Homo sapiens: one gene and its partners. The protein of the gene in region 2 interacts with the protein of the main gene of each other region in a biochemical or structural test. Each region holds a gene or a part of one and is shown on either strand. Other genes may lie near its edges. The genes, in order: SLC22A3, PDLIM1, SLC5A12, NCBP2L, ZSCAN30, PLCB1 and TRMT13.

What was found.
Region 1: the proteins of PDLIM1 (region 2) and SLC22A3 interact in a test that uses a peptide from one of them, tested with the Homo sapiens proteins (one large-scale study listed by IntAct).
Region 3: the proteins of PDLIM1 (region 2) and SLC5A12 interact in a test that uses a peptide from one of them, tested with the Homo sapiens proteins (one large-scale study listed by IntAct).
Region 4: the proteins of PDLIM1 (region 2) and NCBP2L interact in a test that uses a peptide from one of them, tested with the Homo sapiens proteins (one large-scale study listed by IntAct).
Region 5: the proteins of PDLIM1 (region 2) and ZSCAN30 interact in a test that uses a peptide from one of them, tested with the Homo sapiens proteins (one large-scale study listed by IntAct).
Region 6: the proteins of PDLIM1 (region 2) and PLCB1 interact in a test that uses a peptide from one of them, tested with the Homo sapiens proteins (one large-scale study listed by IntAct).
Region 7: the proteins of PDLIM1 (region 2) and TRMT13 interact in a test that uses a peptide from one of them, tested with the Homo sapiens proteins (one large-scale study listed by IntAct).

Annotation. Positions count from the first base shown.
Region 1 is NC_000006.12:160,346,599-160,351,717, forward strand, and holds the start of SLC22A3 (solute carrier family 22 member 3), read left to right. Parts: upstream 1-1,779; 5' UTR 1,780-1,821; coding exon 1,822-2,250; exon of another isoform or gene 2,251-2,424; coding exon of another isoform or gene 2,425-2,460; intron 2,461-2,481; exon of another isoform or gene 2,482-2,587; intron 2,588-3,059; exon of another isoform or gene 3,060-4,072; intron 4,073-5,119.
Region 2 is NC_000010.11:95,266,619-95,270,945, reverse strand, and holds part of PDLIM1 (PDZ and LIM domain protein 1), read left to right. Parts: intron 1-2,083; coding exon 2,084-2,168; intron 2,169-4,327. UniProt on the Homo sapiens protein: Cytoskeletal protein that may act as an adapter that brings other proteins (like kinases) to the cytoskeleton. Involved in assembly, disassembly and directioning of stress fibers in fibroblasts.
Region 3 is NC_000011.10:26,715,076-26,719,402, reverse strand, and holds part of SLC5A12 (sodium-coupled monocarboxylate transporter 2), read left to right. Parts: intron 1-3,048; exon of another isoform or gene 3,049-3,130; intron 3,131-4,327. UniProt on the Homo sapiens protein: Acts as an electroneutral and low-affinity sodium (Na(+))-dependent sodium-coupled solute transporter.
Region 4 is NC_000023.11:107,783,621-107,787,947, forward strand, and holds part of NCBP2L (nuclear cap-binding protein subunit 2-like), read left to right. Parts: intron 1-4,327.
Region 5 is NC_000018.10:35,283,115-35,287,441, forward strand, and holds part of ZSCAN30 (zinc finger and SCAN domain-containing protein 30), read right to left. Parts: intron 1-4,327. UniProt on the Homo sapiens protein: May be involved in transcriptional regulation.
Region 6 is NC_000020.11:8,715,966-8,720,292, reverse strand, and holds part of PLCB1 (1-phosphatidylinositol 4,5-bisphosphate phosphodiesterase beta-1), read right to left. Parts: intron 4,030-4,327; coding exon 3,945-4,029; intron 2,623-3,944; coding exon 2,445-2,622; intron 1-2,444.
Region 7 is NC_000001.11:100,146,032-100,150,358, forward strand, and holds part of TRMT13 (tRNA:m(4)X modification enzyme TRM13 homolog), read left to right. Parts: intron 1-495; coding exon of another isoform or gene 496-641; exon of another isoform or gene 642-1,862; coding exon 1,863-2,295; exon of another isoform or gene 2,296-2,593; coding exon 2,594-2,789; 3' UTR 2,790-3,010; coding exon of another isoform or gene 3,011-3,066; 3' UTR 3,067-3,336; coding exon of another isoform or gene 3,337-3,404; 3' UTR 3,405-4,327. Other genes in the region: LRRC39 (leucine-rich repeat-containing protein 39), read right to left, coding at 3,337-3,404. UniProt on the Homo sapiens protein: tRNA methylase which 2'-O-methylates cytidine(4) in tRNA(Pro) and tRNA(Gly)(GCC), and adenosine(4) in tRNA(His).

The DNA of each region.
Region 1 (5,119 bases), on a different chromosome or scaffold from region 2:
TGTACATGGGGGCCTTCAGAAGGAAGGCCCAAAGATACAGGGGAAATTGCCTAGTTTTATGCTTAGGTTCAACAAAACATGGAGAGCCCTGTCGAAATAGGATTGGACCAAAAGGGTGTGATCTGATGCTGATACTGAGTGAGGAAACCCAGCGAGGCCGGTGGCTCTAGATTCTTCTTGGCCTCTCTGAGCAGCCTTTTTTTCCTTCTGGGTAAGGGGCAGGTTCTTCTGTGGAATGGGAGGTCTTAGGACTGCAATCAACAAGGTAGAACAGTTGATTTCTTTATGGCCAGTTTTTACACAGACAAGTGAGGGAAAATCACAGTGATATTTTTGTTTTATGACTGGCTTTGGGGAAAAGCGTTCTGGTTTCGATGGCTAGCCTGGGGGAGAATGGGACCGAGAGACAGGAGGGCAGAAGATGACACAGAGACTGCTTCTGAGGCCTTCATTTTGGCGTATTGTTTTCTGAGCTCCAACATTGGCAAAAGGGGTTCCAAGCCGAGATGACCTAAGAGTACAGGCCTGAGGAGTGAGTGGTGTCCCCGCCATACTGAGGTTCTGAGTCTGGGCCCAGGACATGGTTGCACCGAAAGGCAGGGCAGGAAAGGGGAGCTGGGTTGGAGGGGGACAGACTGAGTCTGGGGTCCAGCGGGCAGTTGAAACTGCTGGTGAGGACATGAGGCCAGTTTGAATCCAAGCAGCCTGGCTTCAAACTCCTTGTTCCGGAGGAGGAACCGCAAGTCCTCCCAAGGCCTTGGAGAAAAGTGAGCTAAAGGCAGAACGTGGGCCGATAACGTGGGGGCGTGGGGGGACCGCGACCCAGCCCGGGGAAGGCGTCCCAGCATGGACCCAGCAGCCTGGGCAGCCTGGGCGGGAAGTTCTGATCGCGCTCTGCCGAATTGGCAGGCGCAATAAGTAAGCGGAAAAACCAGGATTCAAACCAACCACCAACACCCTTCCCTGGCGTTCAGACCGAAGGTGGGTGGGAAGGCCCTGGCGAAGGAGGTCTGCATCAGGCCTGGCCTTGAGGCGATCCCTTCTCACCCCAAACCTCCTGGACGCTGAGCAAGCCCCTTCGCCTGTGTGGGTTGCCCGGCTGCCCTCTGGGGAAAGTTGGGTGATCAAATCCCAAGTTGTAGCTCTCGATGGGTCGAGGGCGATGGCCAGCGCTGTGCTGGGAACGGGCAGCCCTGCCCTGCCCTGCCCTGCCCTGCCCTGCCCTGCCCTGCCCTGCCCCACATGGGCGCAGGAGGCCTCCGCACGCGCAAGGGCCAAGGGCTGGAGGGGGCTCTCCCGGGCACAGGCACCGGACCCGGGGCGCGCGCGCGCGTCCTTAGTCCCCGGGCTGCACTCCGGGCCGCTGAGAGATCGGGTCCCAGAAGTTCCGGGAGTGGTCGGGTGACCCTGGAACTTTCTTCTTCTGGAGCCCGACCTGGGGCTGACTGCAGAGCAGGCTGCTGGCAGGGACCAAAAGGAGCTCCGCGCCAGGCCGGAGGCTGCGCCCGTCACTCGCGGTCCCGGCCGGGTCCCTGGCGCGTAGTCAGGCCGCACCGCCCGAGCCCCACCGCGCGCCCACCCCGGCCGGGTGCGTCCGGCTCGCGGCCGTCCCTCCCGCGACCTGTGGCCCGGGGCTGCTGCGGGCGCCCGGGGAAGAGAGGCGGGGGCCGCGGGGGGCAGGAGGAGCGGCTGCGGCCGGCACAGCGCCAGGGCGAGTGAGGCGGGTGGCGCGGGGGAGGCGGCGGAGTAAAGAGAGGCCGCCGGCTGGGTCCGCGGGTCACTCCGAGGCGCGGGCTGCGGGCGGCGGGCGGCGGGCGCACCATGCCCTCCTTCGACGAGGCGCTGCAGCGGGTGGGCGAGTTCGGGCGCTTCCAGAGGCGCGTGTTTTTGCTGCTGTGCCTGACGGGCGTCACCTTCGCCTTCCTCTTCGTCGGCGTGGTCTTCCTGGGCACGCAGCCCGACCACTACTGGTGCCGCGGGCCAAGTGCCGCGGCGCTGGCCGAGCGCTGCGGCTGGAGCCCGGAGGAGGAGTGGAACCGCACGGCGCCCGCCTCCCGCGGCCCAGAGCCCCCCGAGCGCCGCGGCCGCTGCCAGCGCTACCTCCTGGAGGCGGCCAACGACAGCGCCTCCGCCACTAGCGCTCTCAGCTGCGCGGACCCACTCGCCGCCTTCCCCAACCGCTCGGCTCCCCTTGTGCCGTGCCGCGGCGGCTGGCGCTACGCCCAGGCCCACTCCACCATCGTCAGCGAGGTAAGGGCGCCCCGGCCCTTTGGAAGCCGGCGGGAGAGGACGATGCTGGCTCCCAGGCGGACAAGCCGCGTGTGAGACGCTGGCCGCCAGGGGAGGTCGGTGGAGACGGGGACCGGTCGGCTACCTCTGGGGACAGACAGGATTCAGCGCACCCTTGGAAGTGCCGCGTCGTAAATGCTGGGAAAAGCCTTTCGTTATCTGCCTGAGCCCGTGAGTTAATGCACAGATACTTTGGTTTCGGGTGTGAACAAAAACTTTCTTCGAAGCCGAGTTGTAAACGCCTGGCGCACGCCTGCTCAGGAGTCAAAGACCCAGCACCGCGTTCCTTATCTTTGAGGTGTGCGGGCGCCGTCATTGGAAATTATGGTTAGGTGCGCGATAGGGAACTTCAGTCTCTGGGGTGAGCGACGTTGGCAGTTCCGGATTCGCTTATGGTCTCCAGGGTCAAAGGAAAGGGCGAACCAACGTTTGAAGGCAGCAGCAGCTTTTTTCCAGTTGCCCAAATGGTTACTCAAAATGCAAGGGGACAAAGGTCGAGGCTTTCCCGGGGAATGGTTTTGGTAAAATTGCTTTGGGGCAAAGAGCAACATCTGGGATAAGTTGGGAAAACTGAAGTATTGGATAAATTTTAGTTTTTTTTTCTGGTAATAAATTTTAGGAACATAGCGGGAGGGCCACAGCCTTCCAACGCAAATCCCCAACCCATTTACAGGCGGAGGCTGCTGCCGGCGGGTGGGCGGGGGCGATCCCCACATTTTGGGCAGTCAGTGCATTTGGAAGTTAGGGGAGCTTCCTTCACCCTTGCCCTCAGTAATCTGTTTCTGCATCCTTGCTGAAATGGAAGATTGCCTCTCTGTGAGGTCCAGATATAGAGCAGAGTCACTTTGTAATAATCGGAACTCAGAAACGGCCTCAATTGAGCATGGGTTGCAGAGATGAGCAGTTTTACTGAGCTTTGTCTACAATCACAGCTTAAGTTAATTTTAAAAAAAGATTGAATGTGATCAGGTACATTAGGAAAAAAGGTTTGTCTTTTTTTTGTGATAAACTTTAAAAAATCACCTACTTGAAGAGTGGGGAAAACACTGGATGAGGAGGTAGGAGCGCCCTTTCTGCCGCTGTTGCTGTTGGTCTGGTGAGCTTATCTCGCTGCAGTTGGGAGTGTCGGTGGTTGCAATTGTACATGTTTTATACGCCATGTGCTGGTGTGTTCGCACAGTGGATGGCTCTATGCTATGTGCTCCAGGGATAAAACCCATGGCAGGACAGCCAGGCGATGTGTGTATGTGTTTGGGATCTTTCTGTAACGCCGTGTGCTGCTGTGTTCGCACAGTGGATGGCTCTATGCTAAGTGCTCCAGGGATAAAACCCCCTGGCAGGACAGCCAGGCAATGTGTATGTGTGTTCAGGGTGTTTCTATAATGCCACATGCAAGTGTGTTCGCACACTGAGTGGCTCTATGCTGAGTGATCTCAGGATAAACCCCCCTGGCAAGACAGCCAGGCAATACATATGTGTGTTGGGATCTTTAATTTCTACTTAATCCATGGTAAGGCTGGGGACTGCTTTATAATTGGTGATGGTCTGGTTAGAGATTTCACAGTTGAAAGGACAGGGCATGGACTTGGATGAGAGAGGGCATTATCTCTGTGAGTCGCATCTGTTAGGTGGCTTCTTCCACTCCACTCAGCAGCGCTGCCTAATGCTTACTTCCCAAGTGAACCAGAGGACCCACATGGAGGGCAGACAGCTGATTTTTGGAGACATTTAAAGATGAAGAATAAAACGAGCCTCAACAAGTGCTCAAGCGAGGTTTGCATGAGTGAGTATGATCCATGGACATCAAAGAAGACAGACATAAAAATCTGTAATTTAATGCTCTGACGGATACTTTGGAAGCATTCTGGAGTTGCAGGGTTACTAGCATCCCGGGGTTACAATAAGGTGATTTTATGAAGATCAGTGGCTACTAAAATGCAGTGTGGAATGATGGAGGGTCAGGGGCTGGCTCGGTCTCCAGCTGGCTGTGTGGCTTGGGTGAGTTACTCGCCTTCTCTGGGCTTGTATTTTTCCTCTGTAAAATTAGCCATTGGATTCAGCCCGTTACAATGCTCCAAATGCCATCAGGGTCACCACCTGGTTACTGTTTGGTGTGCCCAGAACAATGATTAAAAAGTCTTTAAGAAAGTAGAATGATATTAGGAATGTACCCCGTAAAGCCCCAAAAAAGTTTTTGAAATATATTGGAGAGATTCTTTTTTGTTTTGTTTTGTTTTGTTTTCTTTGAGACGGAGTCTCTCTCTGTCGCCCAGGCTGGTGTGCAGTGGCGTGATCTCGGCTTACTGCAAGCTCCGCCTCCCAGGTTCCTGCCATTCTCCTGCCTCAGCCTCCCGAATAGCTGGGACTACAGGCGACTGCCACCATGCCCGGCTAATTTTTTGTATTTTTAGTAGAGGCGGGGTTTCACTGTGTTAGCCAGGATGGTCTCGATCTCCTGACCTCGTGATCCGCCCGCCTTGGCTTCCCAAAGTGCTGGGATTACAGGTGTGAGCCACCGCGCCCAGCCTCTTTTTAAATTCCAAATAGTTTTGTGCTTCTTTTGGTTTGTTTTTCATGTTTGGTTTCTTAAGAGGAAAACCCCCATCTATTCATAAAGTTCAACTATCCAAAACAAGTCAGCAACTCTCTGAATTCTGCATAGCTAATATTTTGCTGTCTTTGGTTCAACTAATTTTTTTCTTTCAAATTCTGTCTGATGAAAGGAACTGTAGTTCCATCTTCAGCTAACATTATGTATCCAGTGTATTTTTATAAACTTGAAGCCTAAGATACAAATCATGCAAAGGGGTGAATTGGGAGAGTTTACAAA
Region 2 (4,327 bases):
AACCCTATCTCCACTAAAAATTAAAAAATTAGCCAGGTGTGGTAGCGTGCACCTGTAGTTCCAGCTACTCGGGAGGCCGAGGCAGGAGAATCACTTGAACCCAGGAGGCAGAGTTTGCAGTGAGCTGAGATGGCGTCACTGCACTCCAGCCTGGGCGACAGAGCGAAACTCCATCTCAAAAAAAAAAATGTCCTTAGGATGCTGCTGCTACTGCATTGTGCTGAGCAGTGGGTACCATGCCAGGAGATTGCAATAACAGAGAAAAACTTGAACACATTAGCAGCAGAGTACTGAGTGTAACTTTAGGTACATGACAAGCAAGGAGCGCTGGGGATAAAAGAATGAATGAGGGTAGCACCTTGGGAGCTGTAATTAGGGTAGAATTTCCATTCTTCTTTCATTTAGCCTTGGAAGGGGTCCCGCAAAGGCAGGATTTCGGAAGTGATTTGGTTCAACCCTCAGTTGGCTCCCTGTTTCCTACTGCATCAAATTCAGATGTTTCATTCTGATCACCTGTTATCTCACTAACCTTAGCTGCCACAGCTCTTTGTCATGGAGCCTTTGGTTAGATTCTCATCTGTGAAGTATGTTTTTTGCTTTTTTTTTTTTGCTTTGTGGCACAGGACTGGCAGGTGGATCGAGTGTGGGGGAGTATATAAAAATATTTTGTACACTTCAGAGACCTACCCCATGAGAGGTACACTGTGTTATTACTACCCCCTCAAAAGCACATCTGCCCTTCATTCTCATCTCCATTTCTATCTTTGTCCAAATCCTCTCCTTCAAGCCCGAGTTCAGGACATTCATTCATTCATTGATTAATTGATTTTTTATTTGTTTACCGGCATGTTGAAAAGGGACATCTTGTATATCTGGCATAGACATTGTGACAAATATAAAGTTAAGTATGGCCAGGTATGGTGGCTCTAGTCTGTAATCCCAGCACTTTGGGAGGCCGAGGTGGGTAGATCACCTGAGGTTAGGAGTTCAAGACCAGCCTGGCCAACATGATGAAACCCTGTTTCTACAAAAACACAAAAAAATTAGCTAGGGATGATGGCAGGTGCCTGTAATCTCAGCTACTCGGGAGACTGGGCTGGGAGAATCGCTTGAGCCTGGGAAGCGGAGGTTGCAGTGAGCCAAGATCACGCCATTCATTGCACTCCAGCCTGGGCGACAGAGCGAGACTCTGTCTCAAAAAATAAATAAATAAAATAAATAAAGATAAGTATAAATATTTTCTACCTGCAAGAGAGGAAACAACGACACTAATGAAAACTGAGACTAAAGTAAAATCATTGCTCTGTGGTTGGTACAAAGAAAATAGTTTATAAGAGCAAAAGAGGGGCGTTCTTCTCTTTTTTTTTTTTTTTTGGGATGGAGTCTCACTCTGTCACCCAGGCTGAAGTGCAGTGGTGCTATCTCAGCTCACTGCAACCTCTGCCTCCTGGGTTTAAGCAAGTCTCCTGCCTCAGCCTCCCGAGTAGCTGGGATTATAGGCGTATGCCACCACACCCGGCTAATTTTTGTATTTTTAGTGGAGATGGGGTTTCACCATGTTGGCCAGGCTGATGTCAAACTCCAGACCTCAAGTGATTTCCCCACCTCAGCCTCCCAAAGTGCTGGGATTACAGGCGTGAGCCACCACGCCCGGCCAAGAGGCATTATTTTCATTTGGGTCAAACAGGCTTCACAAATAAGTTGGTTATTTGGTCTGGACCAAACACACTGGGTTGAGATAGAGGAGAAGCCCATTCTATCCTGAGCAGAGATAGGGCAGTGTGAGTCATGCTTAGGAACATGGAGGAGACCACACTGCTGGTGTCAGCTACCCAGAGTGTGGTGAGGGAGGATGAAGTGCTTGGGAAGCCCCTTGGGGCTATGCTGGGGAGCCATCAGCCATGGATGTTATCAGATTGGGGTGTTTAAAAGATCAACCTGGTGGCAAATGGAAGGTAGAGCTGATGGGAGGGTGCTAGTTCAGTGCCTAGTCCAGGAAAGAGGGGGCATTTTTCCAGTTTGTCTTTGGTATATATTATTTATTTTACATGAGTGAAACAGCAGCTTTGTTAATCTGTTGCAGATCTGAACATAAAGTCTGGTCTCCTCTGGTGACGGAGGAAGGGAAGCGTCATCCATACAAGATGAATTTAGCCTCTGAACCCCAGGTAAGTTCTTGCTCATCGTTGCCGCTGCTCTCACCACCCAGCACTTTGCCGTTTCTGACACTGCTCAGCACATTCCTGTTTTTCCTGCCCTGGAGGCCTGGGGATAAGACCCTTCACTGTCTCTGCTGGTATCTGGCTCTTGTTCAGTTCTTCCCGTAAGGGAACTGCAGGAGGATAGGGCTGGAAAACCCCAGGGCAGTGACGCTGTGTCCTGGGCTGGAAGCAGGGGGTCGGAAGGCGATAAGGGAAGCCGGTGGAAGCCTTCCTGCGTGGGAAGGGTTGGCAGGATCACAGTGAAGTCAAGGAGCTATTCAGCTCGTTATGGATTTCAGCAACAAATGAATCATGACAGGGATGAAAATAAGTTTAGGTCTGGAGGCCTAGAGCCTAGAAGAAATCGGGGAATATGTAATAGGAAGCCCTGCTTCTCCCCACTGTATGCCCCTGTCTGGTTTCCATGAGCCATGGAGTGGAAATCTCTATTTTTGTTACAGTGAAACTTCTAGTGAGACTTTAAAATTACTAAAATAAAGCAGCAATTAATATAAAAAAAAGCAGTACATAGTGTACAATTTGTCACCCAGATAGAATTTCTCAGGACAGTAGACTGCCCTAAGATCCCATATTTGTGAATAAATCTCTCAGTAGTTGGATTATTGGATTGTAGGTGATTTTATTTCTTTCTGCCTTATGTGCCTCTTCTAAATAATCTACAAGGCATGGGTATTGTTTTTGAAATAAGGGACAAACTTAGAGATGTTTAGAACATCTTTTGTAAAATTCCTCACACCCAACATGCTACTTGTCTCAAAGTATGTGTCTGTTGGATACATTAATGAATTAGTAATGATAAACTAGGTATGTTGATAATGCCTTTTGAAAATTTTACACTGGTTTGTGATGGTTATGCATTTGACCCAAGTTGAAGATTTGAAATTTAACTTATTTTTCTAAATTTGGGATACTATTTAGTTTTTATGGTGAATTAAGATGTAATTAAAATACAATATATAGCTAGCTATCTTTTATACATAAAACAGAAACTTGTATGAAGTTGAACTCACTTGGTATATTAGTGTGTGTTAATTGGGTGGTTGGATATAAGTCATATTTTCTCAAATAGAATCCATTAAAATTTCAAAAACGAAGTCACATAAAATTTTTGCCATTAAGATAGTAAAAATAATTATTAAAAATCCCAAGAGTCATTTTAAGGATCATTTTGCATCATTTCAAAACTGATGTGAACATATTCTTCTATACAACTCCTCTCAGGAAAGTTCGTAAAATGGCACTTGGTCTATACACTGGCAGTTGTGCAAACTAATTTAAAACATGCCACAGTTAGTTTCAGTTTCCTTGGGAGTTCTCAGCTACTTCATTAAATTTACCATAAATGTTAAATTTTAATTGTTAAATTTTAATTTTTACATATTTTATAACACACAAGGAATGATTTCGTTTTAACTTGGTCTATCTGAAATCCTCATTTTCATGTAAATAAGGTAATTATGTAAATTTCAGTTATAGTTTTCATTTGTAGTATATTTGAATTTTCATTTTAAATCTGTAGTTACCTGTATTAATCTTTTGAAGGTAGTTCTCTTCAGATTACAAAAATTCTCAAATACTTTAAACCCTTGTATTTTTCTTGTGATTCTAGTAATGCTTTATTACTGTAAGAAAAACTTCTCACCCATCATTTTTCCAGTCTTTTACTTCCAGCCATTCTAAAGTAGAGGATAAATGAGTAAGAGCAGAGTTCATCTATAATAAAAAGATCTGTTGGTTCATGTAATGCCAACCAACACCCCAGCTTATCTGAGGTCAGCATAGTTACACACCTAGTTTGTACTTCCTCATTATTGAGTTTCCTTGGAGACTGATAAATACAAAGCCCAAACAATTACATCATCCCTTCTAAAAGGCAAGCCCTGAATCTGCCTGCTTTCTGGAAAGACCAGTCAGTATTCAGATGAGGGTAGAGATATTCCTTTTATGTACAAACCAGATGCATTCTTGAAAGATTCTTTAGAAAGTGAAATCATCCGAATTTTCAACCTGAATTTTCCATTGACTTCCATTCTAATTGGAAATGTGTTTCGGTGGAGGGAGAAGGGAACAGACCCTGGTTGAATATGTGCCACGAGCCAGGCACT
Region 3 (4,327 bases), on a different chromosome or scaffold from region 2:
GGGAGTTGAGGGCAGAGACATCAGATGTCTTTCAGTGTGTAAAGGCACATATACAATGAGTAATTTCACTCTGCACTGCATGATATTTTAATGCCGTAATGCTCAAAAACTACTGCACATATTAGTATTACCTTAGTGCACAGTAACTTTACAATAAAAAGTTATACACACACTATAAATTAGCACATTTTCCAGAAATTAAATGAAATAAAAACACTGTCTTAAAATTATTGAACAATTTACTTACTTTGAACAATCTGTCTATTCCATATGTGCTGCTCATTACATGCTTAGCCATAACTGGTTTTAGTAAAATGGCCTAGTTACTGCAAAAACAACTAAACCAATTGCAATTATGTAACTGAGGAGATTTGATTCTCTTTTTAAATTAATAAATTAGTACAAGTATTGAAAATATAAGGACTTCATTGAATTTAATTTACTAAATTGTTTTTAAAATATTTACTATTTTTGCCTCTACATATTTTCAACTTTTTAGTGACCTAATAGTAAGTAATCCAGAGTGTGTAAAGTAGATATAAGGTTATTTTGGGATTACCTCTTGCTTTATAAAAATTGGCATTATGGCATGCAAGTTAAAAGTATGGACTCTAGGCCAGGCGTGGTGGCTCACGTCTGTAATCCCAGCATTTTGGGAGGCTGAGTTGGGTGGATCACCTGAGGTCAGGAGTTCGAGACCAGCCTGGCCAACATGGAGAAACTCCATCTCTACTAAACAACACACACACACACACACACACACACACACACACACACACACAAAATTAGCCAGGCATGGTGGCGCACATGTAATCCCAGCTACTCGAGAGGCTGAGGCACGAGAATCACTTGAACCTGGGAGGTTGCAGTGAACTGCCGAGATCCACTGCACTCCAACCTGGGCAACAGAGTGAGACTCTGTCTTTAAAAAAATAAAATAAAAAAGACTATGGACTCTAAAGTCTGTTGACTTGGCTTTCAGTGTCAGCTCTGCCACTTGCTAGCTGCATGACCTTGGCGTAAATTACTTAACTTTTATATACCTGGTTTTCACATGTGTAAAATAGTGGTAATAAAAACATCTATCTCAAAGGATGTCTGTGAGGAGTAAATGATTTATTGTATACAAATACTTTTAACAGAGCCTGGCAAATAGTAAATACTATGTAAGAGTGTTGCATTATTATGATCATTGTTGTTGCTATCTTCAAATTTATACCACTTAATCTGTCTATAGTATCTGGAGTTTCTGTTTCTTTCTTCAGCCTCCATTCTCTAGTAGTTATTGAAAGGTATGCTTTCTAGGGTCTTTTTAAATACTAAAGACTGAAAGAGGTGGAGTCTCTTTATCCACCCTGTGAACTTTGGCCAGTTTTGTGACTTGCTTTGACCAGCAGAATGTAGCCAAAGTGATGTTCTGTGAGCTTGGAGCCTAGGCCTTCTGAGCCTTGTAGCTTCTGCCTTTGTCCTCTTGGAATGCTGCCCTGATACTGCTATGTAAGGAAGGTGGCATAGCTGATCTAGCTTCAGGAGCAGCAGTGGACACATAGAGAACAGAGACACCTAGCCAACAGCCAATACAAGTTACCAGACCTGTGAGTGAGGCCATGTCAGACCTCTCTCCATTGATCTTCCAAGTTACTGAAGCTACATGAAAGTCCTGATGAAACCAGAGAGATCACCCAGCCTGACCTCAGAGTTATGAGAAATAATAAATTTTTGGTTTTTGAGCCAATGAGTTTGGAGGCGAGTGTTATATAGCAATAGCCAACTGATTTAAATGCCTTGATATGCAGTGGGATTTCAAGACTAAGATATGCCATCTGTGCTACTTTATCACTACCCTGTCACAAGTCAATGTATAGGGAATTCTTCTCACCCTCAAGTGATAATTTAGGCTTAGCTAGTTTGCAATATCATATATTTTCATTATCTCAATTGTACAGTTTGTTATTAGTCTCATAATATTATCTTCACTTTAAAGTTATTTCCTTCCTTCTCTTATCATACACTCATAAATCTAGTTTGCTATTATTTACCTAATTTAATATTGGCTTATAGGCCAATGTCTACCTGTTCTCTCATATTTCTTGGACTTCTTGGCTTCTGAACTACTTACTTCTCTTCAATTTCAAATTTTCTTTATGATAATGCCCGGGCTACTATTTCACTGTGTTTTCTTGTACAGTGGTTTCTGAGCATTTATACATTACATACTTTTTTTAGGTAAATGCTTTCCTTTTAGTTCTCCTTCAAATAACAGTGGTGGTATTGTTAGTAATTATATTTATATTTTGAGAAATTCAATGTTTATCTATAAGATATTATTGAATACTATTTCAGCAGAGTGAACGGTGCTATATAATATTTGTTGTAAAAGAGATATTTAGGGTCTGAACCAACGTTATGGGGCCTTTTAGGTCATCATAGGGATTAGCTTTTACTCTAGAAATGATGGGTCATTACAGTGTTTGGGAAGGGAAGTGACATGATGGGATTTGTATGTTAAGAGGATTACTCTAGCTAGATATTAAGAATAATTTTAGGGCTTTTACTGCTGAAGCGGGGAGGTAATTGGGAGTTTCCTTACATAATCTGAGCAAGAGATGATAGTAATAGGGTTGTAAGAGAGGATGAATGCAAGTAAATATGTTTTGAAAGTGGGGGGCAAGCACCCAGATTTCTTTTATGAATTGGATGTGGGGAGGGAGAGAGAGGAGTAAAGGCTGGCTCTATGTTATTTGGGCTCGAACCAACCTGAAAAGTAGAGTTGGTATTTCCTGAGATGGAAAAGAGTATGGCTGGATCAAGTTTGGGGTTCTGAAAATAATCCATCATAATGTTGGTAAATGTCACCTCAGGTATTTTTACAAGCAGGCATGAAGCATGCAACTTCTCTGTTGTATTTTTACTTTTGACAATAGGAATAGCTTATATATACACCAAAGGTGACCACTGAATGAATGAGTGAATACATTGAAAGGAAAAGTGGATAAATTCTTTCAGATATAGAATTATGCAGTTGCAGTAGTCTTTCTTCTTTCACAGATGAGAATCCTGAAGCACAGATCACAGAGTGAGATGCCAGCAAATCTCAAACTGGAATTCAAGGAGGCTGATTTCTGATCAGGTCTTTATTCATATAGCTTTTCCCTAGTACTGTCTTTGTAATTTTACTGGGTTGAGTGGAACTTAACTGAAATGCGAAAACCATTGATTTTTTTCAAGATCCCTATAGCAATAGCCTCGTGGCTTTACTGGTTTTCAGGATTCGTTGCCCCTTATGTTTTCCAGACTTCCTTGTGCCACCCAGTACCAAAGCTAATGCTACATATTTTTGGTTTTTGTTACACCTCCCCACTTCTAGTGCCAATCTTTGTATTCATGATTATCTATTGCTATGTAGCATACTACTCCAAAATAAATGTCTCAAAATAACAATTTTAGTTTTTCACAATTCTGCAGATTAACAATTTTGCCTGGCTCAGATGGGCCCCATAAAATTGTGCTGGTCTCACTTGGGACCATCTATGTGACTTCCATAAGGTAGCTAGTTGGCTAGCAGCTTGCTGGCCTAGGGGAATGCAAATGAGACAGCTTGTCCTTGTTACCTTTAGTCTCATCCTCCTGTAGGCTAACCTGAGTTCTTCATGTGATAGAAAAGAGTTCCTCTCAGAAAGAGAACACACCTCATTACAGAAGCATTTTCAAAATTTGTACTTGCAATATATTTACTAGAAATGTCTCTGTCTTAAGTTGCATTCTACTAGAAGCAGATCCTGAAACAAGGATTTGAATGCAAGTTGATTTGGGGGAAGTGATTCTAGTAAGCAGTGATAGACAAGTGGCAACGTGAAACAGAAGAAAAAGATGCCAATTAAAAATGTAATTTTGAGCAGGTTACCACTGTGAACAACTGGGGTTCAATCCAACTGGGGATCTCTAAGAGACAATATAAAGTGCGTCTCAGGGTTGTCCTCACTGAAAGGCAAAAAGCCAGGGTATTTTGTTCCAACCCCATTTAGTAATTGGCTGAGTGCCAATGATAACACCCTCAAGCCTTCTGATCTGCCCTATGGCCCTGTGCAAAGGCTCAGAACACTCTCAAGCAGATAATCTCAGGCACATTTAGATGCCATCAACATGTACTGGAACAGGGAATGCCAATAAACTATGGGTGTTGCACCCTCAGAGACCACAGCAGTCATTAAATCCTACTATAGCCCTAGCTCTGTACCTGGCATTATCATACTTCCCACCATCTGATCCATACAACATCCACTTTCAGAAGAGAAAATCATGGCTTAGTGGCAGAAAATAGTCTTCC
Region 4 (4,327 bases), on a different chromosome or scaffold from region 2:
CCTCGGCCTCCCAAAGTGCTGGGATTACAGACGTGAGCCACTGCACCCGGCCAAGAATTGTATATATTTAAGGTGTACACCATGATGTTTTGACATACATTGTGAAACGATTACCACAATCAAGCTAATTAACATATACATCAACCTGTCTTTGTAGAACTGTTTCATGGAGGCCATATATTATTACATCCTAATATCTACAGTGTTTTCTTCTGGAGCTCACAGTCTGGTGTGCGTATGTGTGTGTGTGTGTGTGTGTGTGTGTGTGTGTCCAGGGTGGGAGCACAGGCAAGTAAAGAGACAATCACAGTATATATGATAAGGATTGTCATGGAATGAAGCACAGAATGGTGATGGAAGGAACAAAGAGTGGGCATACCAAACACAGATTGGAAGGGTAAAGGAAGGCTTCCTAGAGGAGATGATGGCTTGAAGGATGAATTGAGAAGGACAAAGTACTTATCCAAGCCCATTTTTAGTGCCTAGTAGGCATTCATCTAATGAGATGGTGGATGTATAACACTTGGTACCTACCACATAGTCACAACTCAATATGTGGTAGATGTCATTATTGTTACCTGACCTTTTCAAACAAACTTGAATGGCAAGTTATGTTTACTATGAGGAGTATGTAAGATAATGCATGACATGTTAAGTACTTAATATAGTGTCTGGCATATAATAATTGCCCAGCAACTGGTGGCAGTTGATAGTGTTATTGTTGCTGCTATCATTATTTTTAGGTTTGGCTGGACTGAGATAGATGGAATCTTCCATCTCTGATCTTTTGGGTCATTCAACTCTGCAATTTGTTACATGTTACATTATTTCATATTACATGAAATTACATATTACATATTTATATATGTAATATGAAATTACATGTTACACATTACATTTTTTCAGATATAATGTCTGCAAGCATGCTTATGTTCAGAACTTTTCCCGATAACAATCTCTGGCCCCAACCATAACAATCTCTGGCCCCAACCACCGCTACCACCATCACCAGCCACATGGTGTTCTCAAGTTGTGGTCTCCACAAAGCATATAGGAAATAGAGGAGCTGGGCAGATGCGGTGGCTCACGCCTGTAATTCCAACACTTTGGGAAGCTGAGGCGGGTGGATCACTTAAGCTCAGGAGTTCAAGACCAGCCTGGGCAACATGGCAAAACCCCATCTCCACAAAAAAAAAAAAAAAAAAAAAAATAGCCAGGTGTGGTGGCATGCACCTGTGGTTTCAGCTACTCAGGAGGCTGAGGTGGGAAGATTGCTTGAGCCTGGGAGGTTGAGGCTGTAGTGAGCTGTGATTGTGCCACTGCACTCCAGCCTGGGCCACAGAATGAGACCTTGTCTCAAAAACAAACAAAAGAAAGAAGGAAGGAAAGAAAGAAGGAAGGAAGGAAGGAAGGAAGGAAAGAAAGAAAGAAGGAAAGAAAGAAAGGAAGGAAGGAAGGAGAAAGAAAGAAAGAGAAAAAAATAAAATAGAGGAATTGATGGTAGAAGAAGTGGAACAGAGCTGTTGTTGCCTCTGAAAATATTTTCTTTATAGTAAAGGGATGACATTGGTTTTCTGATGAGCCTCTGTATTTCCAATCTAAGGACAGTTGGTAGAAGTGAATCAAAATCTTTCCCCAACTTTGTTGGGCACTTTTGCTGTTCTGGATAGGAGGGTAGAGTGTATGTAGATTATAAATATGTTCCTCAGTCCAACCCCATCTCCCTACAACAGCTAGCAGAAATTCCTTCTCCATTAGCAATTAACAGTCCCTTTTCCCCTATTTTCCGTAGCTAGTGCAAGTTTTAGTTTTTTGTTGCAAAGCTTCATGGATATTTTAATGGGCATTCCTAGATGGTGGGTATCAGACTGTGTTATCTTGCTGCCATGTTAACCCAGAGTTCCCCCAGATACAATTGGTTTTCTTGCTAACAACTTCAGGGAGAAGGCACAAAAGTCCTTTGCTTTTTCATGGTCCTTTCTTACTGTCTTTCCAGCCCTCTCCATCCTGGGGGCCCTGTTTTCACCAGTCATCTTATTTTACCCAATACAGGAGTCCTCATCCTTTTTGTAAGGAAAAACTGTGTTGTATATTCCTGATGCCTTGATCTCCCTGGGAAGACGGAAATTAAAGGTAGAGGGAAGTTTACTGAATCTGGGGGCTGGCTACCAGGGTGTGGGAGTGAAGAGGATTGGGGAGATGCTGCTTACTGTCTTCCTCTCTGAGCTGAGAATCCAGGTAAACTGCAGAGAGCAGGGCAGGAGAAGGGCGATCATGTTGGAGAGTTAGCTTGCAAGGCCTTGATATTGTTTGTAGATCCCAAGCTACCGATTAGGGGCCCCTGACCTAATATAGTAAAAAAAAAAATGGTTTGTGTTGTCATTGTGGCTATTTTTTAATATCCTTCCAGAGGTATATCTCCCTTCCTGTATTAGCTTTCTAAATCTTGATACTGTGCACGCAGATTGATCCATTTGCCCTACTTTCCACTCCTTGTAGCATTGTCAATTGTCTTTCAGCCACCTCTGGAATTCTGGACTTGGTTTACCTAGCCTTTGTGACCACTCCATATATTGACATACAGGGAGCCTCCAAGCTGCAGACAGGCTGAGCTCTCAAAGTTCACTCTCAAGTCAATTGTTTGGAAGGTGACATGCATTTTTCCATAGGAGAAAAAAATTGTTATAAATTGAACTACATTTCCAGACCAGCCCACAAAAGATGTTTTTAGCTTTAATGTACTAAAAATGTGGGCCATTTGCAATGACAAAGTAGGAAATCTTGGTAATTCAGCAAAAACAAGAAGACAATCCAAGGGAATAAGAAATACTTTTGCTTGACTGCTGGTACTGGAGTCAAGAAAGCTGAACTGGATGAGGTACACAGGGCTTTCCGGAGGCTCTCCAGAAAGACTCATGGGGACTTTGAAAGTCTGGAATCATAACATAGTTCTAAGTTTACTTCAGAACTGATGGCTTTCAATAATAATGACTACCACATACTGAGCACTTACTGTGTGTCAGGCGCTGTGTTAGGCAGTTTACATACCTTCCCCTCATTTCATTTCATTCTCACAACAACACTATGAGGTAAATACTATAATGACCCTTATTTTACAGACTGAGGCTCAGAAGGGTCAAGGAACTTGACAAAAGTTATACAGACAGCACAATTAGAGGCCAAGTCAATGGTTTCCTACTGCCCAAACCTGTGCTTTACAATATATATCTGACCACTCTTTTCTTTTCTTTTCTTTATCTGGATATATTGGGAACACTACTTTTGGGGCTATCAGCCATGATTAGAGTTATGTGCCAGATCACAAGGAAACTAAGATTGGGAAACTAGGAGAGGTGGTACAAGGGAGAGAAGGAAGGAGGAAGGGACAGAGAATTTTGTTAGGCAAAAGTTCAACTAAGAAACCACATACGTCAGTGCTTCTCAAACTGTACTGTGCACTCAAATCACCTGAAACTCGTTAAAATGAAGATTATTATTCAGCAGATCTAGGGAGGGGCCTGAGATCCTGCATTTCTAAAAAGCTCCCAGGTGTGCTGCTCCTGCTGGCCCACGGACAACACTTTGAACAGTAAGGCCATATAGTGCAAATGATAAACAAAAAAATTCAAGCATCCATTAACACCTGCTTCCTAATTTAATCCAGATCAGCTTCTACACTAAACAGTCACTTATTATCCTCTTTTCTCCTGTAGCCTGTCTCAGGCCATTGTCTCCGCTTTAGTTCTGCCAGTCTGTTTCAGCTTATGTTTGTTTATTTATTTATTTGTACAAATTTAAGGGGTTCGAGTGCAGTTTTGGTACATGGATATATTGCAGAGTGGTGAAGTCTGGGCTTTTAATGTAACCGTCACCCAAACAGTGTAGATTGTACCCATTAAGTAATTTCTCATCTCTCACCTCCATGACATGTTTATGTTTAACTACTCATTTAAATACAGGTGTTAAATACATATGAACATCTTCTGTCACTCTGAGCACTAGGCAGTCTCAATCAGACATGAATTTCTCTTGGCACAAAGTAGATATTTGGCCACAGGGTTCCAGTCCTCAACAATGGCTCTCAGCTCTCTCACCCATTAGGAACAGTCTTATAAAGGTAAGGCATGTAGTAACACTACTGTCCCAGCGCTTTCTAATTTCCTTTCTTAGAGCTACTGCCTTCATCTGGAGCAGAAAGTAGCCTGGCTTTTTAAAGAGTCCAGATCCTTGTTCCTTTCACATAGTTGAAACAATCCCAGCATTAGTTTAAGGCAACCATTGAAAAGATTCTTTGCAGAGTCCTGCCAACTCCAAAAGCCCAGTGAAG
Region 5 (4,327 bases), on a different chromosome or scaffold from region 2:
GGCCACACCTGAAATCCCAGCACTTTGGAAGGCTGAGGCAGGCGGATCACCTGAAGTCAGGAGTTTGAGACCAGCCTGGTCAACATGGTGAGACCCCGTCTCTACTAAAAAAAAAAAAATACAAAAATTAGATAGATGTGGTGGCACGCACCTGTAGCCCCAGCTACACCAGAAGCTGAGGCACAAGAATAGCTTGAACCCAGGAGGTGGAGGTTGCAATGAGATGAGATCATGCCACTGTGTCACAGGATACTTGGGGTGTTGCTTTTCTAGTCAGAAACCTCTGTGGCCAGTGGTGCCTTTGCCTGAGTTTTGCTTGGGCCCACTGGGATCGTTCTGCCCACTCAGCCTGGCAGGCTGTGCTTGGCTAATGCTACCAGCCTGTATCTCGCCCCTGCCAAGGGTGAGCCAGGCGTGAAGTAGCAAGGGATGTGTGAGCGAAAGAGTGTGGGGTCTGGCCACTGCACACAGTCAGGCACGCTGGCTGCTGCAGCAGGGTGGGCAGCTCCAGGTGCCAGTACGGGCCCTGGCTCACTGCAAGGCTGTGACTGGACTAAGTACACCACAGTGGTGCCCAGAAGCTTGGAGACTCCAGGAAATGCAGGGCCCCAACGGGAGTCACAATCCTGGCTCAGGGAGCTTCCTGGTCTGGGCTTCCTGAAGGGCCACAGCTCTTCTCTCCTCTTTGCCTGCAATGTGGTGAGCAAGGGGCATGTTTCAGCTCTGTTTGTGTTACAGCTCTTTCAGCCCCACCATTCAGCAGGTCTCAAGTTCTTGTCCTGCATCCAGATAGAATGAGGTATGTAGACAAGTGGAGGCTGAGCAAAGTGAAGAGGAGCTTTACTGAGAAGGAGGAGCTTTACTGAGCAACAGAATAGCTCAGAGGAGACCCTGGAGTGGGTAGCTCCTCTCTGCAGGCAGCTTGTCCCATCATCGCTGCAGCTGTCAGCAAAGAGGAGGCCCTGAAGTGGGTAGCTCCTCTCTGCAGGTTGGTCCTCCTGTTGTCTCTGCAGCTCTCAGCAGAAAAGAGGCCCTGGAGTAGGTAGCTCCTCTCTGCTGGCAGGTCTTCTCCCCCAGTCTGGCTGAGTCCAGGGAATTTTATGGGCCTCAGAGAGGAAGAAGTGCATGCTGATTGGTCCATTGGTGGCCATGGGCAGGTCCAAGAAAAAGCACCACCAGTTCCCCCTCCAGTCAGGGGGACTGGTGGCCTGGCCATTAGGCTTCAGGCCTTCTGGGGACCCGCCCCTTTCTGCCTCAGAGCATGTCGCCTCCTACTGCTTTCTATGGTGCCCAGGCTGTTCGTGGGGACAAGCACCTGCAGGCAAATGCTGAACTGCCTTCAGCCTTCCCTCAGCCTCCCTTCTATGTTTGTCAGCACCCAAAGTCTGGAGGGGGCTGAAGCAGCAGAGGAATGGCCTGTCAGCACTGCCTCAAGTATGCGCACAACTGGCTGGGCTGCAACAGCACCCTGGCTCGGCCCCAACCTTGCTCCTAGATCAGAGCAGTCACCAGGAGCAGGGAGAGGCCAGGCAGCAGAAGCAGATACCTCCAAGCCTGCTGAGGTGGGGGTGCCTTCCCAGGCCCCTAGAGTGCAGAGATATCCAGGTTGGTCCGCAGCCACAACCTGGGTGGCTACAGCTGCACAAAGGAGGTGGGGGATGCAGGAAGGGCTCATGCCTGCTCCAGCACTCCTGCCTGCTTTGGCACTCCTGCCTGCTCCCAGCCTCCAAGAACACGGTCTGTAGCAAGGACTTGGGTGGCTGCAGTTGCACCCAGGAGAGCAGGGCTCCTGCCTGCTCCTGGTCTCCAAGAACACAGGGAGGCTCAGCCAGCAGCCATGACTTGGGCAGCTGCAGCTATGCCTGGGGAGCTCCCACCCGCCAACTTGGAAGGAGCTGGGCTCCTGCTTGTCCCCGCTCCCTCTGGCTCTGTGAAGCTCACAGCATGGGCAGAGCCTCCTGGCTGCAGCCAGCATCTTGGCAGTGGCCACTCCAGATGGTCCAGATGGCCCACTGTTGCCATCAACAACACTCCAGCCTGGGCAACAGAGTGAGAGACTCCATCTCAAAAAAAGAGAAAAAGGAAAAGGAATAACAATCCTAAACATTTATGCAAATTGTGAGCTTCAAAATACATAAAATTAAAACTGATAGAATCACAAGGAGAATAGACAAAACCACAATTATTGACAGAGAATTCAATACTCATCTTTCAATAATTACTTTTAAAATTAGTAGAAAATCAGCAAAGTATATAGTAAACTTCAGTAATACCATTAACCAACTAACAATAATCAAATAGTCAACCCAACAGCAGCAGAATATATTAATATATCCTTCTCAAATGTGCATGGAACATTTATGAAGACAGACCATGTTTTGGGCCATTAATGAGTCTCAATAGATTTTAAAGGATTCAAGTCATACACAGTATGTTCTTTGACTACAATAAAATTAAATTAGAAATAAATATCAGAAAAATCTCTAGAAACCCCCCAAATATTTAGAAACTGAAATAATCCAAGTTCAAAGTATTCTGAACTGAATGAAAATAAAAAGACAACACATCAGAATTTGTGAGATGCTGCTAAGGCAGTACTTAGGGGAAAATTTATAGCACCAAATTTCTATAACACAAAATAAGAAATATTACAAATCAGAGGCCTCAACTTCCACTTAAAGTAACCAGAAAAAAAAAAGCAAGTTAAACCCAAAGCAAGGAGAAAAAAGGAAATAATAAGGAACAGAGTGGACATTAATAGACCAGAAAATGAAAGACAATTTTTAAATAAATGAAAAGCTGGTTCTCTGTAAAGATAAAAATGACAAAGCTCTGGCCTATCCGACAAGGGGAAATGGGAGAAGATACAAATTACTAATAGCAAGAATGAAAGAGGTAACATCACTGCAGATTCAACAGATACAAAAAGGACAAAGTAATATTATAAACAACTTTATGCCAACTTATACAAAATTGGCTGATTCTTTAAATGATACAAAATACTAAAGCTTACCCTATAAGAAATATATAACCTGAATAGCACCATATCTATTAAAGAAACTGAATTTGTAATTTAAAACCTTCCCACAAAAAAACTCTAGGTCCAGATAGGTTCACTGTGAATTCTGCCAAATATTTAAGGAAGAAATAATACCAATTCTGTACAAACTCTTCAACAATACTGAAGACAATGGGATGCTTTTTGAATCATTCTTTGAGGCCCACGTTACCTTGATCCCAAAACTAGACAACGACATTACAAGAAAACTATAGGCCAATATTCTTCATGAAAAATCCAACAATATATAAAAAGGATAATACATCACAGTGAAGCAGGGTTTTTTACAGGAATGCAGGTTTGGTTTAATGTTCAAAAATCAATCATTGTAAATCACCATATTAACAAACTGTCTTCTCAAAAGATACAGAAAAGGCAATTGACAAAATCCATCCTACATTCCTGATATAAATTCTCACCAAACTAGAATTAGAAAAAAACTTCCTCAGTCTGTTAAAGGGTACCAATAAAAAAAACCACAGCTAACATCATGCTTAACAGAGAAAGGATGCTTAAGATTAAAAAAAAAGACAAAGATCTTCACTTAAGATTGGAAAAAAGACAAAGATTTCCCCTTTCTTCATTTCTACCGAACACTGATATACATAAAGATCAATTTTACTTCTTCTTTTCCAATCTGAATGCCTTTCTCCACCTCCCTTTGCCTGCCTTACTGCGCTGAAAATAAGAAAGGCATCCAGATTGGAAAGGAAGGAGTAAAACTGATCTCATATGTAGAATATCTGATAGAATCTACAAAAACAGCTACTAGAACTAATAAATGAATTTAACAAAGTTGCAAGATACAAGATTAATATACAAAAATCAATTGTATTTCTCTATTATATTACCAACAAACAATCTGAAATTAAAGGAAAAATACAATAGCATCAAAATATATTAAATACTTAGGAATAGATCTGTCAAAAGTTATGAAAGATCTGTAAAATATTAAAAAGAACTATAAAATATTGGTGAGAGATATTAAGGAAGACCTAAATAAATTGAGAAAAATATTGTGTTCATGGATCAGATGACTCAATATTGCTTTAACATGTCAATTCTCCCCATATTGATCTACAGATTCAATCCAATCCCAATCAAAATCTCAGATAGCTTCTTTGTAGAAGTTGACAAACTGATTCAGAAATTGATATGGAAATGCAATGGGCTTAGAATAACCAAAACAACAAAATTAGAGGTCTCACACTACCTGATTTCAAGCCTTATTATAAAGCTAGAGTAATTAAGTGTGGTGTTGGACTAAAG
Region 6 (4,327 bases), on a different chromosome or scaffold from region 2:
ATGTTCACTGCCTGTAAAAATCGTCATTTGTGTTATGCATCCTGTTAATAAGAGGCAGAGAACTGGTAGTGGGAAAGGCAGATGGTAAAAAACACAAGCACCCACATGCAAAGGAAGACAAGGTTTGCTTGCTATCATTCAACGGATAGAGTTGTGTTAGGAAATAGGTGTGAATGAAAGGCCTGTTAATGATACTCACTTCCAAACTTCAAAGAGAACATTTTTACTGAGTACAGAAATTATTTTTGAAAAAATGTTGAAAGACATGCACAATAATGATGAAAGTACACATTCAAAAGCTACAGGACAAAACCCTTTCAAAGAATTATATAACGTCTGTTGATAAAGATTTTAATCGAAACAATAAAAAAACAGGCAATTGAGACAGAAAAATAGAAGAAAAGATAAATCAGAGTCTCAGGCTACTTTTTTTTAACCCTGATTGTCCTAGAGTTTATATTTTAATTATTTTAAAATCTTATAACTGATGTATAACAGGCGTACAGAAAAGTACACGTCGTAAGTCCACAGTGCAAAGAATTTTCACCAAATAAACGTGTCTGAGTAAATGATATCCAGATCAAGAAACAAAATATAACCAATCTCTAGAAGGCTCTTGGGCTCCCTGCTGGTTGCTTTTCTTCCAAGGGAACCCATTATCCTGACTTCTAATAAATAGCATAAATTAGTTTTGCCTGTTTTTGTGTGTTATATAGGTTAAATCATACAGTATGTAGTTTTTGTGTACCTGACTTCCTTTGCTCAATATTATGTTTATTTATAGTGATTCATCCATAGTTTTCATTTAGTTATAGATTATTCTCATGGCTGCATATTCTTTCTTTGTGTGAATATACCATAATTCATTTATCTGTTGACGAGTATTTGGTGTCCAGTATTTGGCTATTCTGAATACCTCTGCTTTAAGCAATTCTTGTACGTGTCTCTTGGTAAACCTAAATACACATCTTTAGCAAGCATATACCTAGGAATGGAACTCCCGAGGTACAGGGAGTGCATATATTCAGCTTTTGTAGACACTGCTAAGTAGTTTTCCAATTGATTGTTCCTATGTTTAACTTATAACTGAAAAACTTCCTACAGTCAAGCTTAAAAGTTTCTTCCACTTAATCACCCTGCAATCAGGAGATGTCTATAATGCGATTTTCAGATTGCCAAGCTTCTGACTGAACTTGGAAGATAAATCAGACTAAATGACAAATAATCCCAAGGAAATGAGTGCCACTGAATTCTTTTCTCATCAACCACAGCAATCTATTTCACCCTTAATTTAAAAGGAAAAGAAATGATATTAGGCATCCTCTAGGAGCTTCAAAAGATAATTTAAGTAATTTTGCCATGTCACAGATTTTAAAAAGTTCTTTAAAACATGAAAAAATTGAAATGCCCAGAACTCTTCAGCATATCATCAATGACAATGCATCCAGTGCTCAGTTCTATAGTTAATATTTCCCATTATGAAGCTTAAAGTCATATGGTCACTCTGAAGACTATTTGGCTTACATGGTAGCCAGAATAATGACCTCCCAGAGATGTCTCTGCTCCATGAATATGTTAGCTTGCATGATAAAAGGGACATTGCAGGTGAGATGGAGTTAAAGACCTTGACATGGGAGCAATTATCCTGGATTATCTGGATGGATCCAATGTAATGACTTGAGTTCTTGCCAGCAGAGGACATTTCCTGCCTGTGGTCAGAGGGAGATGTGACCACAGGAGAAAGGTTAGTGAAATGCAGCCTTGCTGGCTTTGAAGCTGGAAGGAGCCCCAAGCCAACGAATGTGGGTGGCCTCTAGAAGCTGGAAAAAGCAAGGAAACAGCTTCTCCCTTAGCGCCTCCAGGAAGGAACACAGCCCGGCTGACACCTGGAGTGTAGCCCAGTGAAACCCAGGGGGCTTCCTGACTTACAGGACTAGAGGATAATACATTTGTGCTGGTTTAAGCCGCTAAGTTTGTAGCAGCAAGAGAAAACCAGTAGTTCAAAACTGTGCAGAAATAGGAATGTTCAAAGTCCTTCTAAGCTAATTTCAGAGCAGCAAATTCTTTTTTTTTTGAGACGGAGTCTCACTCTGTCACCAGGCTGGAGTGCAGTGGCTGGATCTTGTCTTACTGCAACATCTGCCTCCTAGGTTCAAGCGATTCTCCTGCCTCAGCCTCCCGAGTAGCTGGGACTACAGGTACGTGCCACTATGCCCAGATAATTTTTGTATTTTTGCAAGAGACAGGATTTCACCATGTTGGCCACCAAAGACACGGGGTTTCACCATGTTGGCCAGGATGGTCTCGAACTCCTGACCTCATAATCCACCTGCCTCAGCCTCCAAAAGTAGTAGTATTACAGGCATGAGCCACCACGCACAGCCCAGAGCAGCAATTCTTAAACCAACACAAAACATGACGGGGAGAGCCCACCAGCCCCTCACCGGCTCCTGGGGATGAGGGCTCGAACATGCTGGAGGAGTCACTGTAGGTGTTGGAGGCTTGTTCTGAGAGCTTCTTTTTGCCGCTTCCTTCTGATGACTTGTGTGATTTCTTCTTATTTTTCACCAAAATTTTATACATTAAATCCATAGGGCTTGGAAGAGGAACTCCAGATTCCAGCTAATAGAAATGAAAGGCATATTCTTTAAAAATACTGCTCCCTCTTTCAGATCCCCTCCCCAGACCCCCAGATCAGCTGTGGATACCAAATGTCTAGACTTCTTCCCTACCTTCAACACTGCTCATTAAACTCTTAGTGTATCTTACATGGGAGCTAATTTTTTTTTATATCAAAGATATATTTTCATTACTATACTTTTTTTTTCAACATATTCTACATGAAGAAGACCATAGAAATGTACTGGTAGATTTGATGTACTAAATCTGAACATTTATGAATTTTCCAATGGAACATAGAAACCCAATCATCTTGATTTAGGACAGATAAGAAGGCCCTGGCCTGAATTTTTGAAGGAGGGAAGCCAGGCATCTGCCAGGAGGAGTTGGTAAAGACGGGCAGAAGCTTCCAGGTGAGCCCATGAAATCATTTTTTCAGATGCCCCTTAAAATCAGCAAAATCCCCATCCTGGTACTAGGTAGTTTAGCTGCACGTCCCTGGCATCAACAGAAGTGGATGAGGTGGCTTCAGATTTCCTCCCAGCCCTAAGATTCAAGCTACCACATTTGCAAGCCTTATTTTGACTGTTTCAAGTTTGTACATCTAACGGGAAAATCAATTTCCCATGAGGGGGTCATTAGATATTGTATCAGAGAGCATGTGTGCAAGCCACAAGATAGGTTACTTTAAGAAAATCTATAGAATGCCTAAGTTAGTCCTCTATTCTTGGCTTGCAATGAGCGGAGGGACTGGTATAAACTCACTTACAAATGCATGGAGATTGGGCAAAAGGGTGCGGGAAGGAAAATGCTACTTTAGGATATTTCTGCTGCTTTCCTTCCCAAAGCAGAGATATCATCAATGCAATGGGCGACCTGAGTTGTGCCACACCAAAAGGTGCATCCAAGGAAATAGAGAACAGCCAGCAGGGACAGGCCAAGAAGACATTGTGCCACCTGCAGTGTCCTGTTTTGCCAATCCATTCATCTCAAAGAGGTGTGACGAGGTTCCCTGGGAGTGAGCAGAGGCCTGTCCTCTTGGACTGTCTCTATGGGCTGATTGTAATTGTTGGGAAATCTGCACTCTTGATTGAGTTTCATCAGGCAGCCAGCGAGAGAGAAGAGTGTGGGAAGAGGAAGAGTGCAGAGGCATTCCTCTACCCTTAGTGGGGCCCATTGCTGGTATCCTCCTTGTCAAAGATTTCATCACCAACTGCATTAATCTTACCAAGAAACATAAATATGAAAAGGAAGTAAGTTTTCCCTCAACCTCATTCATCAATAATGCATACATTCCTTCAAGGACAAACATCAGAACTGCTTACTGGATATTTTTCCAGGGGCTCCATGAGAAGGGCATCCCCAAAGATCAGTCGGCAGTACTCCGCCATCTTGGCTTGCTGCTTTGGGCTAAGGGAGAACAAGAACAGAAGAAGGAAAGTAGGGAGGCTTATCCAAAGAACCTGAACAGGATTGCTTTGTGTTATTAACTACAGAAAGAAGTAATTCTCTAATCCCACCCATCAGGATTGGTTTTTATCATCCTGGATCTTTATCTTAACTTATGTGAATTTGAATAACATACACAGATGGACAGCGAAGGCACTGATGTGTGAGGTGGTTCCCAAGGCAGACCTGCATAGACATAGGTGGAGGGGACAGCATGTCATTTGCTGTAACTGGAGCCTTGAAATTCCCAGAGTTAGAG
Region 7 (4,327 bases), on a different chromosome or scaffold from region 2:
CTGTTCAGCAACATCAAACCCTGTGTGCTTTTCCATAGACTGTACTATTTCTACTATATCTGGAATTTCACCCCCATTCACCTACTCACCCAAACAAAACAACTGGTCAATTTTTACTCATCCTTCACCTCAGTTGTCACCACTCTCAGGGAGCTCCCTTAAATAAGATATGCCTCCTTGGTGTTATCATAATACCCTCTGCATATTTTTACCTTGTGGTATTTTAATTATCTGTTTATATATCTAATTCTTCCACCATGCTCTGAATTTTTTGAGTATATGGTATATACTTAGTACGATGCTTGCTATATAACAGGAACACAGTGAATATTTGAATGAATGAATAATCTTGGCTACCAATTTGCTGTGTTTCCTTGTCCCTTTCTGCATATGTGGCTTTGTCTTTTAAGTTCTTTATAAAAGATGAATTGAGATAAATTGCTAAAGCTCCTTCTAATTCTGAAATAACTTAATTCTTTTTTTTTTTTCTTCGAGACGGAGTCTCGCTCTGTCGCCCAGACTGGAGTGCAGTGGCGCAATCTCGGCTCACTGCAACCTCCGCCTCCCGGCTTCAAGCGATTCTCCTGCCTCAGCCTCCCGAATTGCTGGGACTACAGACTCGTGCCACCACGCCCGGCTAATTTTTGTATTTTTAGTAGAGACGGGATTTCACCGTGTTAGCCAGGAAGGTCTCCATCTCCTGACCTCGTGATCTGCCCACCTCAGCCGGCGTGAGCTACTGCGCCTGGCCTGAAATAACTTAATTCTTTTAATAATTTATCTGGTTATTCACATTTCTGAAAATCACTTACTTAAGTCAAATATGAATAAAACAATGACTAAATGTATTTTGTCAGAAAATAATAGTTTATGAAATAATAGATTAGCTATCACTTTCTGCAAATAATGGGTTTCTAATGTTTGTTGACTTAAATTCATATATTGAATTAAATTTACTAGTGAAATATCAGATCATTTAATAGTCATTTGTGATATCTTAGGGTAATAAAATTTTAAAATATGTATATGTTTTTGATTGAACAGACACAACATGACAATCTAATGATTAAGAAGATATGGGTCCTACATTTTGGGTCTTTCCAGTATTGTCAACAGTGTAGGAGTTTTCGATGGGAAATAGCCATAGTCATCAAAAATCCATTTATTTAGTTTTAAAATATACTAAAATATTTTCATTGTAATGTGGAGTACATCTGCCTCTTAAGTTTGTGTATATTAATAATTGTATCCTCAGTGCTTTGCACATGAAAGGCATTCAGTAAATGTTTGTTAAATAAATGAATAAATACAGTAAGGCTACTCAGTGAGGCCTGCTTTCCAGATTCTGTTCTGACGCCCTCTTTTCAACTCTTCAGTTCATCACTATTTGCTATGAGCCTCTTCAAGACAAGCATCTTGACCTAGCATCAACCTAAACAGATTTGTCTGCCCTTCCTCCCTCCCTTCCTTCCTTCCTTCATTTTTCCTTTCTTAAACTAGAATGTAAGTGTAGGTGAATAAAGTTTTCCCATACAAGTCATTTCCTCAGCTAAGGTAGGAAAAGTGAGAGACAATTCAGGTAGTTGGGTAAAAGTTCTTCAAATTGTAGATCTTAAGCTTCAGATAGCTTTATTGGGAAGTAGGCTTTATGCAGAATAAATCATTAAAGAAATTGAGAAGATAGAAGAGCAAATTTGAATGAAGTTGATAATTCATGATAGTATTATTACAAATATAAAGCTGAGTAGGTTTTTGCTGTTTTTATTGTTGAGTTTTTAAAAACAGTACTGCTTAATAAATGTAAAAAGTATTTATTTTTAAAGATGATGTGGTTTGGGGGGGCCACATAATTGTGTTTGCAGATCTTGCATTACGATGTTTGGTTGAAACCTATGCTGCCAGTTTTGAGGAAAGGAATGAAGAACCTTTAGCCAAACGCATAAAGAATGATAAAACAGAAAAAGAAATTTACACTTTGGCCAAGGAAGGAAATGAAAAAAATGTCCCAGAGAAGTGGAACCCTGTGGCTGGCATTGTTATTGCACTCTGTTGTCACCACAGGTGTGATTGGAGACATTATGTGGGCAAAGAATATTTCAGGGCTCTAGGCCTTGGAGCAGTGGAATTCCATTATTTCCAGCGAATGAGTAGTTGGGCAACTTGTGGGATGCGGAAAACATCTTTGGAAACCTCAAATAGTACCACAAAGAGGCAAGATAATCAGAATGATGATAGTGAAGAGCATGATGATGGAGGATACAGAATCACAGATGATGGCGCTGATTGTTTGCCTGGGTAAGAGACTACTTTTGTAATGCATGATACTAAAGGAGAAATATTATATTGTACTGTACTTTAGATGACTATTATCAACAATTCATGAAAATGTATTTTATAATCTAATTTTAGAATAAGCTAAAATATACACATCTTTTATTGTGGTCATAAATATAATGTGTCTTGGAAGCATGGGACAAAGTACTTAGTACATTATGGGTTAGTTAACAGTCTCTCAATAAATAGTGACAAAAATAATTTTTTATAAACTTTTGCAAAATTTTAACAATGTTTTGTGTGTGTTTATTCAATTTAGGCTTCTTAGTGTTGAAGAAAAGAAGAAAATAGGGCATCTTTGTAAATTGCTGATTGACCAAGGTCGAATCCAGTATTTGCAGCAGAAGGGATTCAGTCCTGCTTTGCAGTACTATACAGACCCTCTGGTGTCTTTGGAAAATGTTTTGTTAACTGCTTTACCAAATCATTCTTCATCACCAGAAACAACTGCTTAATGGAAAAGAAATTTGAGCATCATCTGTCTTCCACCAAAAAAAATTTTTTAATTATATTTTTATATCAAAAAAATATATACTTTAAATAGCAAATAATATGAACTTTAAAAAATGCTGTGGCCTCATTAAACTTTGGTAATAGCTTTTCTTTTTACTTCAGAAATCCAAACATTAGAGAATTCACCAAAGTAATCCTCTTTAGAAGGGCATCTTGAATTATATTATCCATCCGTATTTATGGAGATTGGTAAAGTAGTTGAACCGTTGACTTGGTGATCTGAAACATACATAACATGTCAACACATAATTAGCGTATTTCTGTTTGTATTAATTTTGGAAATTTATCTTCCTTTGATTTTATTTAATATTTTTTATTTCTTAAGTTCAAGAGGTAGTGATTGATTGTAACAAGGGCCAATCTGAGAATTTGACTTATATGTGGACATTTTTCCCTACAGATCTGGAAAGCACAATTGTGATTTTCTCAAATGCAGACAATTCAGAGATATTCACAATTAATAAACACAATTAATTAATGAAGTCACCTTCAAATTTCCAGAGCCATACATGTATATATTGTCAGAATCTGTCCATGACAAACACAAAACTGAAGAGCTGTTTTCAAAGAAAAAAGATTATTTCACTTAATTATTTTGTTGGATAATTGTCTAGTTAGAACTTCCAAAAAGATACTTACAAACATAATTCACAAATTTGAAATAATTTCTGAAGTTGATTAGCTATCTCATATCTTTTATCAGGTCATTTTTTATATATGTAGGCACAAACAATAAGTATGTTCTCTTCTGTTTGGGAAAATAATTTGGAATAAAATAGAAATTAGATAATGAAACCAAAAACCTTCTCAAATTTAGGCCTTATTTAACTCATGACTGGTTTCTATGCACAAGAAAATACTAAACCAAATATATGGTAGGACTGTTATTCTCTTCTGCATCTTATCCCTATTTTGTTTCTGCCTTTATTTGTAAAAATTGTCTTAATTGATGGTACATTTGCCAAGACAAAGGTTCAGAATTACTAATTTTAGATATTATGATATTCTGAAATAACTATTTTTATCCTGTAGTTCTATGATTATATGATTTGTAAATAAGAAGCCTAACCAATTTAAAATTCCTGACTTTAGTCTCATATATCTTGTCAGACTGTCTCGGTTCAAATTCCAAACCTACCATCTTCAGTTGTGCGACCTTGGGCATGCTACCTAATCTCTTTGTGCCTCAATTTCCTCCTTTTAAAATGGGGATGATGATGATAACAATAATACCTACCTCACAAGGTTGTTGTGAGCATCAAATGAGATAACACAAGTAAAATGCATAGAACAGTTCCAAGCACAGAGTAATTCAATAAATATTAACTAGTAATAGTAGTGGTAGTAACTCGTGAATCTTTTTAATAACATAATAGGCTTTGATTTTATTATCTCTTTAAGTTGTTAACTTTTTTCCCTTGTTATAAGTTTTATGTCAAGTAAGGTAGTTTGTTTAAGTTAGTTACCCATGTCCCCAATC